2 linked regions of the Homo sapiens genome follow. The protein of the gene in region 2 interacts with the protein of the main gene of each other region in a biochemical or structural test. Each region holds a gene or a part of one and is shown on either strand. Other genes may lie near its edges.

What was found. The genes of interacting proteins can lie anywhere in the genome.
Region 1: the proteins of PAX8 (region 2) and NFIC form a complex in vitro, tested with the Homo sapiens proteins (one study listed by BioGRID).

The regions. Positions count from the first base shown.
Region 1 is NC_000019.10:3,432,562-3,439,587, reverse strand, and holds part of NFIC (nuclear factor 1 C-type), read right to left. Parts: intron 6,071-7,026; coding exon 5,996-6,070; intron 5,312-5,995; coding exon 5,188-5,311; intron 4,506-5,187; coding exon 4,381-4,505; intron 1-4,380.
Region 2 is NC_000002.12:113,233,911-113,240,936, forward strand, and holds part of PAX8 (paired box protein Pax-8), read right to left. Parts: intron 6,933-7,026; exon of another isoform or gene 5,179-6,932; intron 4,303-5,178; exon of another isoform or gene 4,180-4,302; intron 2,812-4,179; coding exon 2,691-2,811; exon of another isoform or gene 2,359-2,690; intron 1,673-2,358; coding exon 1,484-1,672; intron 1-1,483. UniProt on the Homo sapiens protein: Transcription factor for the thyroid-specific expression of the genes exclusively expressed in the thyroid cell type, maintaining the functional differentiation of such cells.

The DNA of each region.
Region 1 (7,026 bases), on a different chromosome or scaffold from region 2:
TCACTGCACCCTCCGCCTCCCAGGTTCAAGTGATTCTCCTGCCTCAGCCTCCCGAGTAGCTGGGATTACAGGTGCCCACCACCACACCCGGCTAATTTTGTGTTTTTAGTAATGATGGGGTTTCACCCTGTTGGCCAGGCTGGTCTCGAACTCCTGACCTCAGGTGATCCGCCTGCCTCGGCCTCCCAAAGTGCTGGGATTACAGGTGAGCCTTTTTTTTTTTTTTTTTTTTTTTTTTTTTTTTTTTTTTTTTTGAGACAGGGTCTTTCTCTGTTGCCCCGGATGGAGTGCAGTGGTATGATCATAGCTCAGGGCAGCTTTGACCTCCCGTCTTAAGCAATCCTCTCACCTCAGCCTCCCAAGGAGCTGGGACTACAGGTGTACACCACTATGTGATGCTATTTTTTTTTTTTTTTTAAGTAGAGATGGGGTCTTGCCATATTGCTAGGATTACAGTTGTAAGCCACTGCACCCGGCCAGCAACCTGATCGTATAGCAGAGGAAATTGAGGGGCAGAGAGGTTAAGGAACCTGCCAAATGTCACACAGCTGGAGAAGCAGAGAAGCCAGTTGCCCGAGCTCCTCACTGCTCTGTCAGCCTGATTCTCCTCCTCGGGGAGGTCCTCCCTTTTCTTCCAAGTTCTATCAGGGTCCTCTTGTTCCCCCTGACTGTCTTCTGTGCCTCCTCCTCTGGGCTGTAGTCACCTGGATAAAAACCCATCTCCCTCACTAGGCTGTTAGCCCCTGGAAGGTAGGGACAAGAGTGGGTTGGATCATCTCTGTGTCCCCAGGGCCTCAGGTAGGGCCAGCACACAGGAGGGCTTTACACTGAGGATGAAACCCTCAGGAGGAGGCCGGGTGCGGTGGCTCACGCCTGTAATCCCAGCACTTTGGGAGGCCGAGATGGGCGGATCACGAGGTCAGGAGATCGAGACCATCCTGGCTAACACGGTGAAACCCCGTCTCTACTGAAAATAGAAAAAATTAGCCGGGCGTGGTAGTGGGTGCCTGTAGTCCCAGCTACTCGGGAGGCTGAGGCAGGAGAATGGCGTGAACCCGGGAAGCGGAGCTTGCAGTGAGCTGAGATGGCGCCACTGCACTCCAGCCTGGGCGACAGAGCGAGACTCTGTCTCAAAAAGAAAAAAAAAAAAAAAAAAAAGAAACCCTCAGGAGGGAGTGAGTTTGCCATCCCCTGAGGTAATCAAGTGGAAGCTGCAGGAGCACAGACCTCCTCTGACATTCCCTGCTAGCTCTGCGATTCCCAATCACAGAGCAGAAGCTGGTGGGGGCTTCCTCTTTGTCCTCCCCCCATTGCTACCACCTCCTTCCCCAGTGGAAGGGGTTGCCAGTGAGCAGCCGGGCAGAAAAGTCAGACTGAGCTCCAGAGCTTAAAATGTTTTCTTTTTGAGTTTTCTCTGTTGAAAGCTAGATTCTTTATTTTCCACCTTTCTCCTCTCCTAATAAATAGACTTAAAGCTACAATTTTTCCTCTCAGGGTTGCTTTGGCTCATCGCAAAGGTGGTCTTTCACTTTAATTAGCGTGCAGTTTACATTCTGACAGCCTCATCAATTACAGAGTTAATGAGAAGTCACGGCTGGGTGCGGTGGCTCACACCTGTAATGCCAGCACTTTGGGAGGCTGAGATGGGCGGATCACTTGAGGTTGGCGGATCACTTGAGGTCAGGAGTTCAAGACCAGCCTGGCCAACATAGTAAAAACCGTCTCTACTAAAAATACAAAAATTAGCTGGTTGTGGTGGTGCCCGCCTGTAGTCCCAGCTACTCGGGAGGCTGAGGCAGGAGAATCACTTGAACCCAGGAGGTGGAGCCGAGATTGCACCACTGCACTCCAGCCTGGGTGATAAGAGCGAAACTCCGTCTCAAAAAAAAAACAAAAAACAAAAAACAAAAAAAACGAAACAGAAGTGACTTTTTTTTTCTTTTTTTTTTTTTGAGACATAGTCTCGTTCTGTTGCCCAGGCTGGCGTGCACTGGCGTGATCTCTCAAAACAAGCAAGACTCCATCTCAAAACAAAAACAACAAACAAACAAAAAAAGAACCTCATAAATACTGAGACAGGTCCCCTGAGGGATGGAGACCCTTTAGGAATGTTCCTGCTCTGGGAGCCCACACTGTGGAAGGGAGGGGCCTTGGCACCTGAAATGTCACAACTAGATGCGTCCGAGTGCCGGAAAGAGACAGGAATTTTTTTTTTTTTTTGAGACGGAGTCTCGCTCTGTCACCCAGGCTGGAGTGCAGTGGCGCCATCTCAGCTCACTGCAAGCTCCGCCTCCCGGGTTCATGCCATTCTCCTGCCTCAGCCTCCTGAGTAGCTGGGACTACAGGCACCCGCCGCCACGCCCGGCTATTTTTTTTGTATTTTTAGTAGAGACGGGGTTTCACTGTGTTAGCCGGGATGGTCTCGATCTCCTGACCTCGTGATCCGCCTGCCTCGGCCTCCCAAAGTGCTGGGATTACAGGCGTGAGCCACCGAGCCTGGTCAGAGACAGGAATGTTATAAAGACGTGGATGACAGTGACCTCCCGTTTCCCGGGTATGTCGCATGGGCCAGACGGTTGCTTCACGCACATCCTACCCTTCCTCCTCCTGTAGCTCCCAAAGAACATTATTCACATCACCCCCATTGTGGAGATGAAGAAACTGAGGCTTAGAGAAGTTAAGTGATGTGCCCCAGGTTACACAGCACACAGAGCTAGACACGGGCAGGGCTGGGATCTGAACCCAGGTCTCTCCAATGCCTGAATCTGACCTCTTAATCCTAATGTTATACTGCTTCTAAAAATCCTACAGGTGGCCGGGAGCAGTGGCTCACACCTGTCATCCCAGCACTTTGGGAGGCCGAGGTGGGTGGATCACCTGAGGTCAGGAGTTTGAGACCAGACTGGCCAACATGGTGAAACACTGTCTCTACTAAAAATATAAAGATTAGCCGGGTGTGGTGGTGGGTGCCTGTAATCCCAGCTACTTGGGAGGCTGAGGCAGGAGAATTGCTTGAACTCAGGAGGAAGGGTTGCAGTGAGCCAAGATCTCGCCACTGCACTCCAGCCTGGGTGACAGAGCAAGACTCCATCTCAAAAAACAAAAATTAAAAAAAAATAAGAGGGGCCCGGCATGGTGGCTCACACCTGGAATCCCAGCACTTTGGGAGGACGAGGCAGGAGGAAAGATCACACTTGAACTCAGGAGTTCAAGACCAGCTTAGGCAACATAGTGAGACCCCATCTCTACCAAAAAAAAAAAAAAAAAAAAAAAAAAAATTAACGGCGCATGGCAGTATGCACCTGCAGTCCGATACTTGGGAGGCTGAGGCAGGAGGATCACTTGAACCTGGGAGGTCGAGGCTGCAGTGAGCCAAGATTGCACCCCGGCACTCCAGCCTGGGCAGCAGACCGAGACTCCGTTTCAAAAACAAACAAACAAACAAACAAACAAAAACAGAGGCCGGGCGTGGTGGCTCACGCCTGTAATCCCAGAACTTTGGGAGGCCGAGGCGGGCGAATCACCTGAGGTCGGGAGTTTGAGACCAGCCTGACCAACATGGTGAAACCCCGTCTGTACTAAAAATAGAAAAAATTAGCCGGGCATGGTGGTGCATGCCTGTAATCCCAGTTACTTGGGAGGCTGAGGTAGGACAATTGCTTGAACCAGGGAGGTGGAGGCTGCAGTGAGCGGAGATCGCGCCATTGCACTCCAGCCTGGGCAACAAGAGCGAAACTCCATCTCAAAAAAAAGAAAGAAAGAAAGAAAGAAAGAAAGACACCCCAGAGAGGACCCTTCTGAAGACAGAAAAGCAAGAGGATAAAATCTTCCTAGAAAACGACGCCATGGGAATGGAGACCCTACAGAAAGGAGACGAGTCTCCTGCAGAACCAGAAGATCCCATGGAGATGGGAACCTGGTTAAAAAAAAAAGTAACCTCAAGAAGGACCCCAATGAGAAGGGATCCGGCATCTCAGGACCTTCTAGAGGGGAAGAGGACAAACAGGGTCCCTACAGACGAGGGATTCTATGACAGATCCCAGGAAGAGGCGCCCTGTTGATCAGAGTCACTACTGAGTCCATCCTGCAGCTCGGGGACCCCACAGAGATGTGGCATTCACGGCCGGAGGGCAGGAGAGTCAGGCAGGGGACAGTCTCTGCCCTCCTTCGCCGCAGCGGAACCAAAGAGATCCGAGAACGCGAACCCGGACCGTACTTCCAGCCAAGCGCAGCTCGGGACGACTACAATTCCCAGGAGGCCCCGCGGCTCCAGGCCGGCTTCCTGCCCCGCGGCGCCCGCGCAGTGGCTGCCGGAAGACGTAGTTCCCGCCACGGTGACTCAGACCGGAAGGCCGGCTCCGCCCCCGCCACCAGCCCTACCTCCTTCCATGTCCTCCGTCCAGTTGCGGCTGCTACTCGTGGGCGAGCTGGGCGAAGTGTAGTAATCGCCGCCAGGGCTCGTGTCCACGTCTTCCTCCATCGAGCCCGATTTGTGCCGCTTGCTCCTTATGGGCGAGGGAAGGGGAGAGGCTGGTTACCAGGGAGACGCGGGGCGGGGGGCGCGACGGCGGGCTTTGCTACTTCCGGTCCTTAAGTGAGCGGGGGCGAGGGAGGTAGTATCGCGAGACATCGCGGGAGCCGCGGGCGTTCAGCCCGTTCCCTACGAACGCCTGTTCCAACCTGTCCATTGCTTGGATGGGACACCCGGGCCAGAGGCAGGGAGGGTCTCAACACAGGTCGGACACCAAGCTAGCATGGTGGAGACCAAAACCCAGGCAGCCTGGCTAATCTCCTGGCCACCTGTAGTCCTCAGAACTGCCTGTTAGGGGTATGATCCCATTTTATGGATGGGGAAACTGGGGCACACACAGTGTGACCTGCTCGAGGTCACAAAGCATATCTCAGCAACAACCTGTGTCTGCATTCTTCTGGGTGGGGAGGGTCCTAAGGGCTGGCTGAGCCGGCAGGACTTGAGGCTGGGGGAGCCCACGGTGGGCTGTCAGGGCTAGGGGAAGAGGCACGTGGGGCTGGCTGGGTTTTGAAGGATGAGATGAGTAGGAGTTTCTCAGGCCAGGTGAATCGTGAAAAGAGGTATTCCAGGGAGAGGAATGAGTCAGCTCGGGCCAGAGGGGATGGGTTGATGAATGGGGTCATGAAATGCCCAGAGGTGGGGACCTGGGTACTTACCCACTGGAGGAGGTGCTGGGCAGCGTTCTTCTGAGGCCAGTGCTGGCTGGGTTCAGGTCGTATGCCAGGTGCCCCTGCAGCTCCCCCAGGGAGAAGTTGGGTCCTGTTCCAGTCACCACGGGTGCTGCAGAGGGTGACAGAGGAGAGTGAGGCAGGAAGCAGTGCCCAGTGCTGCGGTTTGCTTTAGAGAGGTAGGGAAAGCCACTGGGTGCAGTCCAAAGGGGGACCCCCTTCCCATATTGGCCCGGTTCCTAGGGTGGCTGAAACCAGTTTTATTCTATGGATCAGAGGACCAAGGCCATGGGGAGAGGCCAAGAGCACACTGTGAGGCAGAGGTGTAGCCAAAGCTGGAGGCCAGGCTCTGCTGATCTGGACAGGGAAGGTGTCAGTCAGGGCTAAAGAAGGACAGCGCCCAGGACTCGCTGGGGTGGGATTCAGACAGTGTGTGACGGAATGTGCTGGGTCCCCAGCAGGTCAGCAGAGAAAGCAAGGGGACAGGAGGGGCGGGGTCCTTTGGGGTCTCCTGGGACAGGACAGTGGAGGCCCCAGGGAGGAGGAGGGATGCTGGGGCAGAAGTTTCCTTAGTTGCCATCCAGCATTTAGATTCTGTTTCCTGGAGAGGTGGGAGGGAGCCCTGACCTTGGGCTCTGGGAAGGGCCTGGCCACCTCCCTTTCTAGGAACCTTGGCTTAGTGACACAGGGGGTTGTCTGGAAAGGACAAGGAGTAGGGTGAGGGGGGTGGGCTCCTTCCTCCCTGCGGCCCCCTCCCCTCTCCAAGACCCAGCTCAGGGCTGACGGGAACACTCACTCCGGGACACTTGGATGAGCTCAGTGACGCTGAACACGCCGGAGGTGACAAAGCTCTCCTGGAAGTCGGTCGTGTCTGGAACAGGAAGACAGCGGGGTCAGTAGGCTGAGCTGGGCCTGTTTCCCTTCCCCACACTCCAGGGCTGCCTGGACTCCTGGGGGCTGGCCCGAGCCTGGACGTTCCCCCTGTCCATCCTGTGCTGTGGGGGAATGACAGCTCCAGTCTGATGGGGAAGGCCCCGTGGGGGGTCCTTGTCCAGTGTGGGCCTTCACACAGCCTTCATCCGGGTTCCCCCATGCTGTGGAATGCTGCATTCAAGTGAACAGCAGGCCGGGCGCAGTGGCTCATGCCTGTAATCCCAGCACTGTGGGAGGCCGAGGCAGGAGGAACGCTTGAGCTCAGGACTTCAAGACCAGCCTGGGGAACACAGCGAGACCCCATCTCTACAAAAAGTGTTAAAATTAGCCAGGTGTTGTGGTCCGTGCCTGTAGTCCCAGCTACTCAGGAGGCTGAGGCTGGAGGATCACTTGAGCCTGGGAGGTGGAGGCCGCAATGAACCATTGTTGTGCCACTGCACTCCAGCCTGGGAAACAGGGCGACACCCTCTCTTAAAAAACGAGTGGAGCCGGGTGCGGTGGCTCACGTCTGTAATCCCAGCACTTTGGGAGGCCGAGGCGGGAGGATCACAGGTCAGGAGATGGAGACCATCCTGGCTAACACAGTGAAACCCTGTCTCCTAAAAATACAAAAATTAGCCGGGCGTGGTGGCAGGCGCCTGTAGTCCCAGCTACCTGGGAGGCTGAGGCAGGAGAATGGTGTGAACCCGAGAGGTGGAGCTTGCAGTGAGCCGAGATTGCGCCACTGCACTCCATCCAGCCTGGGCAACAGAGCAAGACTCCATCTCAAAAAAAAAAAAAAAAAAGAGCGGAAAGCGGAGGCCTGGGCTCACATCGGCTCCATCACCTGCCTCGGTGTGTGATCTGGGGCAGGTCACTTTCCCTCTCTCAGCCTCCAAGTTTCCCTAATTGCAA
Region 2 (7,026 bases):
CACTGGTCCAGATGGACTGTCTGACTCTGGGCTGCCTCTGTGACAGGTCTCACACACCCCACCCACGCACTGGTCTCTGCTCCAGCATTTCAAGGTCGTCGGGGTAGGAGGGTGTGGGAGGTGAAGAGGCATTTACTTCTGTCACTAAATACCCACACTCCTTGGAGACAGTGCCGCTATTAAAGAGATTCCTCCAATGCTGAACTGAGAGCTAGCTGGCTTCCTTCCCTGGTCCTGGGCCCCCACTGGGCCCACATCTAAAATAGTCCTATCCCTGTGGAAGCCCTTGAGGTATCTGAAGACCATATGGGTCTCTGCTTCCCACTTTCACTGCATCTCAGGCCCTCTCCAACCCAAGCCAAGCGCTTGACTCTCAGCCATTCCTCAGGCCCTGGCTGGATGAGCGAAGGTCCTTCTGCCAGGAGGAGCCAGCTCCCCTTGAGGTCTGACTCATGCAGTGCAGGCCCAGGCCTCAACCAGCTACAGATGGTGCTCCTGCCCAGAGACCTTGGCAGGGACCTTCTCCTCCCTGGGCCAGGTTCCTCATCAGCATAAGAGGTTTGATCTAGAGGCTCCCTCAGGTGCTTCCAGATTTACTTATTTTTATTTATTTGTTTTTTTCTTTTTTGAGATGGAGTCTTGCTCTGTCACCCAGGCTGGAGTGCCATGGCGCCACCTCAGCTCACTGCAACCTATGCCTCCTGGGTTCAAGCGATTCTCCTGCCTCGGCCTCCCCAGTAGCTGGGATTACAGGTGTCTGCCACCACACCCCCTAATTTTTTGAATTTTAGTAGAGATGGGGTTTCATCATCTTGGCCAGGCTGGTCTTGAACTCTTGACCTTGTGATCCACCTGCCTCGGCCTCCCAAACTGCTGGAATTACAGGGGTGAGCCACCTCGCCCGGTCGGTGCTTCCAGCTTTAAATATTTTGAGGCAGTTGAGGTTCCTGATGGGAGGTCCCCCACTCCTCTCAAGTTGTTGAATCACTGAATTTATCATGTTTAACAGATGTCTGACTGTCCTCCCGGTGATGCTGTTAAGCTAGGAATGAAGATAGCTGCATCATGGAAACACAACTGGGACTGACCCTTGGCCTTTTTAGAAATTTGATCCAGAAATGGGCTCCAAAAGCCAATTCCTTTTTCCCTCCAAAATGTTCATTTTTCCTTCTATCTATTTATGCATTTACCAAGGCCAAGTTGCTACGTTACAGCACCCGGCTCCCGGCCTTAGGGTTCCTGCTTTTCCATGGGGTCTTGGGGTGGTGCATCCCCGGCACCCCTACAGCATCCGCCCCTTCCGAGCATGTCTTCCCCGTCACAGAGAACTTCATGTTGGCGCCTCCAAAAGTTGCCGGAGGAATTAGGGAACAGGGTGGGGGTGGATGAGACTGAGGCCAGAGAGGGGGCTGGCGGTCTGCCCTGAGGACCCCCGTCCCACCCGCCGCCATAGCTGCATGGCCCCGGGACCTCCCTGTCGTACCTGAGAGGAGGGCCTGGCCCGTGAACTGCCCGTACACGGAGGCAGCATGGGGAAAGGCATTGAAGGGCGGGACCCCGGAGCCGACTTGCTGCAGATCCAAAAAGGCGGAGCTAGATAAAGAGGAAGGGGTGGAGCTAGAACTGGACACCTCGGGGGTTTCCTGCTTTATGGCGAAGGGTGAGTGAGGATCTGCCGGAGGGAGGGAGACAACAAGGAGAGAGGGGTGTGAGATGGCGGGGAGGGAACACGCACAAGCCAAGCCGTGGGATGTGGAGGGTGCGGGCGGGGCGCGGGGCAGGCTCAGCTGCCCTCAGAGTCTGGGCTGGGGAGAGCCGGGGCCCACGAGGCGTGGCAAGGCGGGGAGAGAGAAGCTAGACCTCCCTGCTGCGCTTCTGCAGCGAAAATGGAGAGACCCGGAAGGCGTGTGTGCGCCCGCCTCTCCCACAGGAGGGAGCGCGGAGACCCGGGAGCGGCCTAGGACCGGAGGCGCGACCCCTCGGCCCACCTTGAGGCCCGGCCTAGGACCGGAGGCGCGACCCCTGGGCCCACCTTGAGGCCCGGCCTAGGACTGGAGGCGCGACCCCTCGGCCCACCTTGCGGGAGCCGCCTAGGACCGGAGGCGCGACCCCTCGGCCCAGCTTGAGGCCCGGCCTAGGACCGGAGGCGCGACCCCTCGGCCCACCTTGCGGGAGCCGCCTAGGACCGGAGGCGCGACCCCTCGGCCCACCTTGAGGCCCGGCCTAGGACCGGAGGCGCGACCCCTGGGCCCACCTTGAGGCCCGGCCTAGGACTGGAGGCGCGACCCCTCGGCCCACCTTACGGGAGCCGCCTAGGGCCGGAGGCGCGACCCCTCGGCCCAGCTTGAGGCCCGGCCTAGGACCGGAGGCGCGACCCCTCGGCCCACCTTGAGGCCCGGCCTAGGACTGGAGGCGCGACCCCTCGGCCCACCTTGAGGCCCGGCCTAGGACCGGAGGCGCGACCCCTGGGCCCACCTTGAGGCCCGGCCTAGGACTGGAGGCGCGACCCCTCGGCCCACCTTGAGGCCCGGCCTAGGACCGGAGGCGCGACCCCTGGGCCCACCTGGCGGCCCGGCCGGCACAGCCCGCCTCTCCTCTCCAGGCCAGGGCCCCACACCTTCCGCCTGACAGCCAGCCAAGCTCTTCAGTCCCCCGCCCTCCACCTGCCAGGGAGGCTCCGGGCGTTGTACCTGCCACCACGGGGTAGGTCTGGTGAGTCGAGAGGTTGCGCCCCAGTGGCGTGTTGGAAGGGGTCAGGGTGGCCTTCCCGTCGTCCAGGGTGCTGTTGAGCAAGGGCAGCGGGTAGAGGCCCTGGGGAGCAAAGAGAAGTCAGCGCACAGAGACGATCCAACAAGCCGACCTTCCTGCAGACCCTGAGCCTGTGTCTTAGGACTTGGCAGCCCTCATCTCCCCAGGAGAGGTCCTCATCGCCCCCTTCTTCCTTTACGTTCTCAACTCCACTCGGCACGTTTCGTTCATGCTCATTGTCCTCCCGCATCCCTGGAATTCAAGGCCAGCTGGTAGCATGGGTGCCCAGACGTGGGATAGAGAGTCTCAGCCAGAGGACCACACCCTGGTTGGATGGCTGGTCGGCTTCCTGGTTTCACCACACTGTTGGGACCCACAGAATGCAGGACGGTGCCAAGGACTGGAGCAGTCTCCAACCGGACTGTTCAGGGTCCTTGCATCTGTTAATTTATTCTTCCCCAGATAGGAAACCCAGGCACAAAGGTTTAAGAAACTTGTCCCACTTCCAGATGGGCCAAAGATAGGATTCAGATTCGAGGGATCAGAATGTGTCTGCTCTCAACCACTGCCCTAAACTGGGTGACATAAGGACCACTTCTTACATTTGCAAAGAGCTTATATCAGAGCTTTGCCTCTGTTGTCCTAGTAGAGTCCCCCAGCAGCCCAGTGACATGGGTGAGTAATATTATGTCTGTGTTTTATATGTGGAGCCTGGAACTCAGGTAAATGGCCCAATTTTGTATAGTGAAACAGACTAAACCCGGGATTTTTCGGCTGTGGACCCAGGTGCTTTACCCACCACGTGGATTTCTTCTTTTCTCTCTCCACATCCAAACAAATAGAAGTGTGCAAGTTCGGCTTGAAAATGGTATTGAGAGTTGTTTTTGTTGGAAACACTCTTTGTCAAGTACCTGGGGGTCTTCATCAGTAAGACCTCATTTTAGATGCCTCCTGGCCTCCCCTTCCCAGGAGCACAGCTATGACCTTAGGTACTCCTTCCGAAAAGAACTTGTTTAACTAAAGGTAAGTGTACCTCATCCTCACCATGGCCTCCTTCCACTGGGGAAGCAGATAGCGCAGAAAAAAGAACACACCCATTCCCCACATACCTTCACACTCGTCACATACCTGCTACGTGAGATGTGCAAAGCTGAATTCAGGGAATGCTCAGTAGTTACATAACAGTGCCACTAAAGGCAATTGTTTTCAGTGATTTCCATCGAGCTGGGTTCTGCAAAGATCCACAGCACTTTCCGGTTGCATGCTGGGCACTTTTGGAAGCTGCAGTCAATTCTGGAGGCCACCAGGGCACCATTAGCACATAGCAGCAATTATTGACTAAATGGTGCTCTGGTTCCATGCCTTCCAAGGGGGCCCACTTAGAGGCAGGGTGGAGTTGCTTAGGGCCTTTTTTTTTTTTTTTTTTTGTAGACGGAGTTTTGCTCTTGTTGCCCAAGCTGGAGTGCAATGGTGCGATCTTCGCTTACTGCAACCTCTGCTTCCTGGGTTCAAGTGATTCCCCTGCCTCAGCCTCCCGAGTAGCAGGGATTACAGGTGCGTGCTACCATGCCAGGCTAATTTTTTGTATCTTTAGTAGAGACAGGAGTTTCACCATGTTGGCCAGGCTAGTCTTAAACTCCTGACCTCATGATCTGCCTGGCTTGACCTCCCAAAGTGTTGGGATTACAGGCATGAGCCGTTGCACCTGGCCAGGGTGTGTCTTATTGAAATTGAACAAAATACCTAATTTCTAGAGCGTATAAGAGAAGTTTAAAATGCTTTATGGATGTGTTGTTTTGACAGCAAAATATCTACTCAGAATCCTATAGCTATTTCAAAATCCAAGTAACTTAGAAAAAAAGGAAAAAGAAAACCTATATAGTCAAATCTTTTGGTGATTTTGTATTCAATGACTGAAACTTCCCAGTGATTATTGGGCTTTTTAGCTGGAATTGAACTTGAATCGGGGCAGAGCAGCACAATGCTTCAGAACTTCAGCGACTCTGAGCCCTGGTTCTGCAATGACCTGCCAAGTAGCTTTAGTCTACTTGACTGCTCTGAACCTTAATTTTCTCACCTGTATGGGAATCATAGACTCTACTTTATGAGGCTGACGTAAGCATTACATGAAATTTTGTATACTTATACATAATGTGCTTAGCACCGAATACTTGGTGACAGCAGATGCCCAATGAGAGTTATCACAGATATTATTTCAGAATCGTGAAGAGTCAGAAGCCACCAAATTCTTGATTTCTGTCAATAAACTGATATTCATATTCTGTTGATTTTTTTTGATGCATTTGTAAAATAGGGAAACAAGAGCTGTATGACTTCTAGCTATGTCTGGTCATGAAATAGCAACCAGGAATAAGGCCACATGATGTTTCTGATGAACACTTCCCCCTGCCCTTTTTTTTTTTTTTTCAGATGGAGCCTCGCTCTGTCACCCAGGCTGGAGTGCAGTGGCACAATCTCGGGTCACTGCAACCTCCGCCCCCCAGCTTCAAGCGATTCTCCTGTCTCAGCCTCCCGAGTAGCTAGGATTACAGGTGCACGCCACCAGGCCTGGCTAATTTTTATATTTTTAGTAGAGATGGGATTTTGCCTTGTTGGCCAGGCTGGTCTCAAACTCCTGACCTCAGGTGACCCATCCACCTTGGCCTCCCAAAGTGCTGGGACTACAGGTGTGAGCCACCATGCCTGGTCCCCCACTTGTTGATTTTGCAGAAAAGATAGCTGTGTTACAACCTGTCCTAAGGTCAGGTATGAATACTTGTGCTTCTTTCTTGGCTCCCCAAGCCAGAGGGCATTCCTATGCCCAGGTGAGAGAGCACGGAGTGTTACTTTGGCAGCACAGTCAGTTACCAGAGGTAGGAAAAGCAAAGGCCAGGCAGGACATGAGGGGCCCTTGCACTGGCTGGTTCTCCCTGCCTTCACCACCCTCCAGGTGAATGACTGGGTGAATAATGATTGACTGAGGAGGTAATGAATAATTTATGGACACTGCTGGACCTCAGTCTCCTCATCTGAAAGATGAGTGGTTGGAGAAGTTTAATGGTTTTCAAATGCTTTTTTTTTCAGTCTTCAAATAAGTGTTTACGTAGAAGCACCATATCTGAAACAGGTGACAGTGGACCAGTCTGAATGAAATGAGGGTTGGCAGGCCTGAGCTCCAAAACCTTCTGATTGCCCAAGCCCTCCTTGTCTTGCTTGGATTATCTCCACACAAATGGAGAAACTGGACAAGGTGGTCATGGAGGTCCCTGAAAGCTCAAAGACTTTCTCATTCCAGGATTCCCCATGTTCATATGCCAGCATGGCATGGGGGTGCTCTGTAGTCAAGCAGGGTCCTTTGGGGGGCTTAGGGATGGAGCCAGGAAATGGCTCTGGGACTCAGCGGGTGTCCAGAGTCTCATCAGCAGGGTTTCTTTACTTTCACTGAGTGGCTGGTGCCTGCACACTGAGTTTTGCAGGCTTACTCTCACAGAGTGAGCTTCCTGCAGGCCCCCCACTGCAACCCCTTTCCTTCCTGGAGCTGTGTGCTGACTGGTGCGTGAGCACCCCAGGCCCTCTCCCCATGCTGCTGATGGTCAGCTTTCTCTGCACGCTCGTGGTTGCCACAGTCAACGCTGATAAAATTGCTGATGCAGATTGCCTGCCCAGCTGCGAGTGCTGGCACGGGACCAGCAGCCCAGACGGTCACTGGAAGTGGTTGGGCTGATTATTGGCATCATCTCCATTGTCCTACTCGGTTCTTAAAGGCATATGGACTTGCCTCACTCCTACAGCAAATGACGGCATGGGCAAAGAGGGGCAACAGACCCACCCTGAAGACACTCCTCATCTGGTTGACTTGGCAGGGTTAAGGGAAAAAGATGTGATGACTAGGAGCTGAGAGCTTAGTGGTTCTGCCAGAGCTGCAGAGTCTTTGTTGGCCTCAGGGTGGGACCTCTCACATCTCTGTCAGCTTTTCACGGACACCAACCTGTTATGATTCATTTCACCTGTCCTGAGCACTAGCAAGAAAAATTCGCTGTAGCTTGTGATGTATTATTCTGGATTTCTCAACTCATTCATTTGTTCATTCATTCACTATACCATTACTGTCTATTATAAGGGGGGCACAATGGTAGGTGCTGGGAATAAAAACGATGTTTAACGTTTCATGAGGCTTCCCTGTCCTTAAGGAGTCCGCGTGTCTTTGTACCTGTCTGTCTGCTAGATTATTAAGTGACACTGTGAGAAGCTACTGAGAGCAGCATGTGGGACATGCAG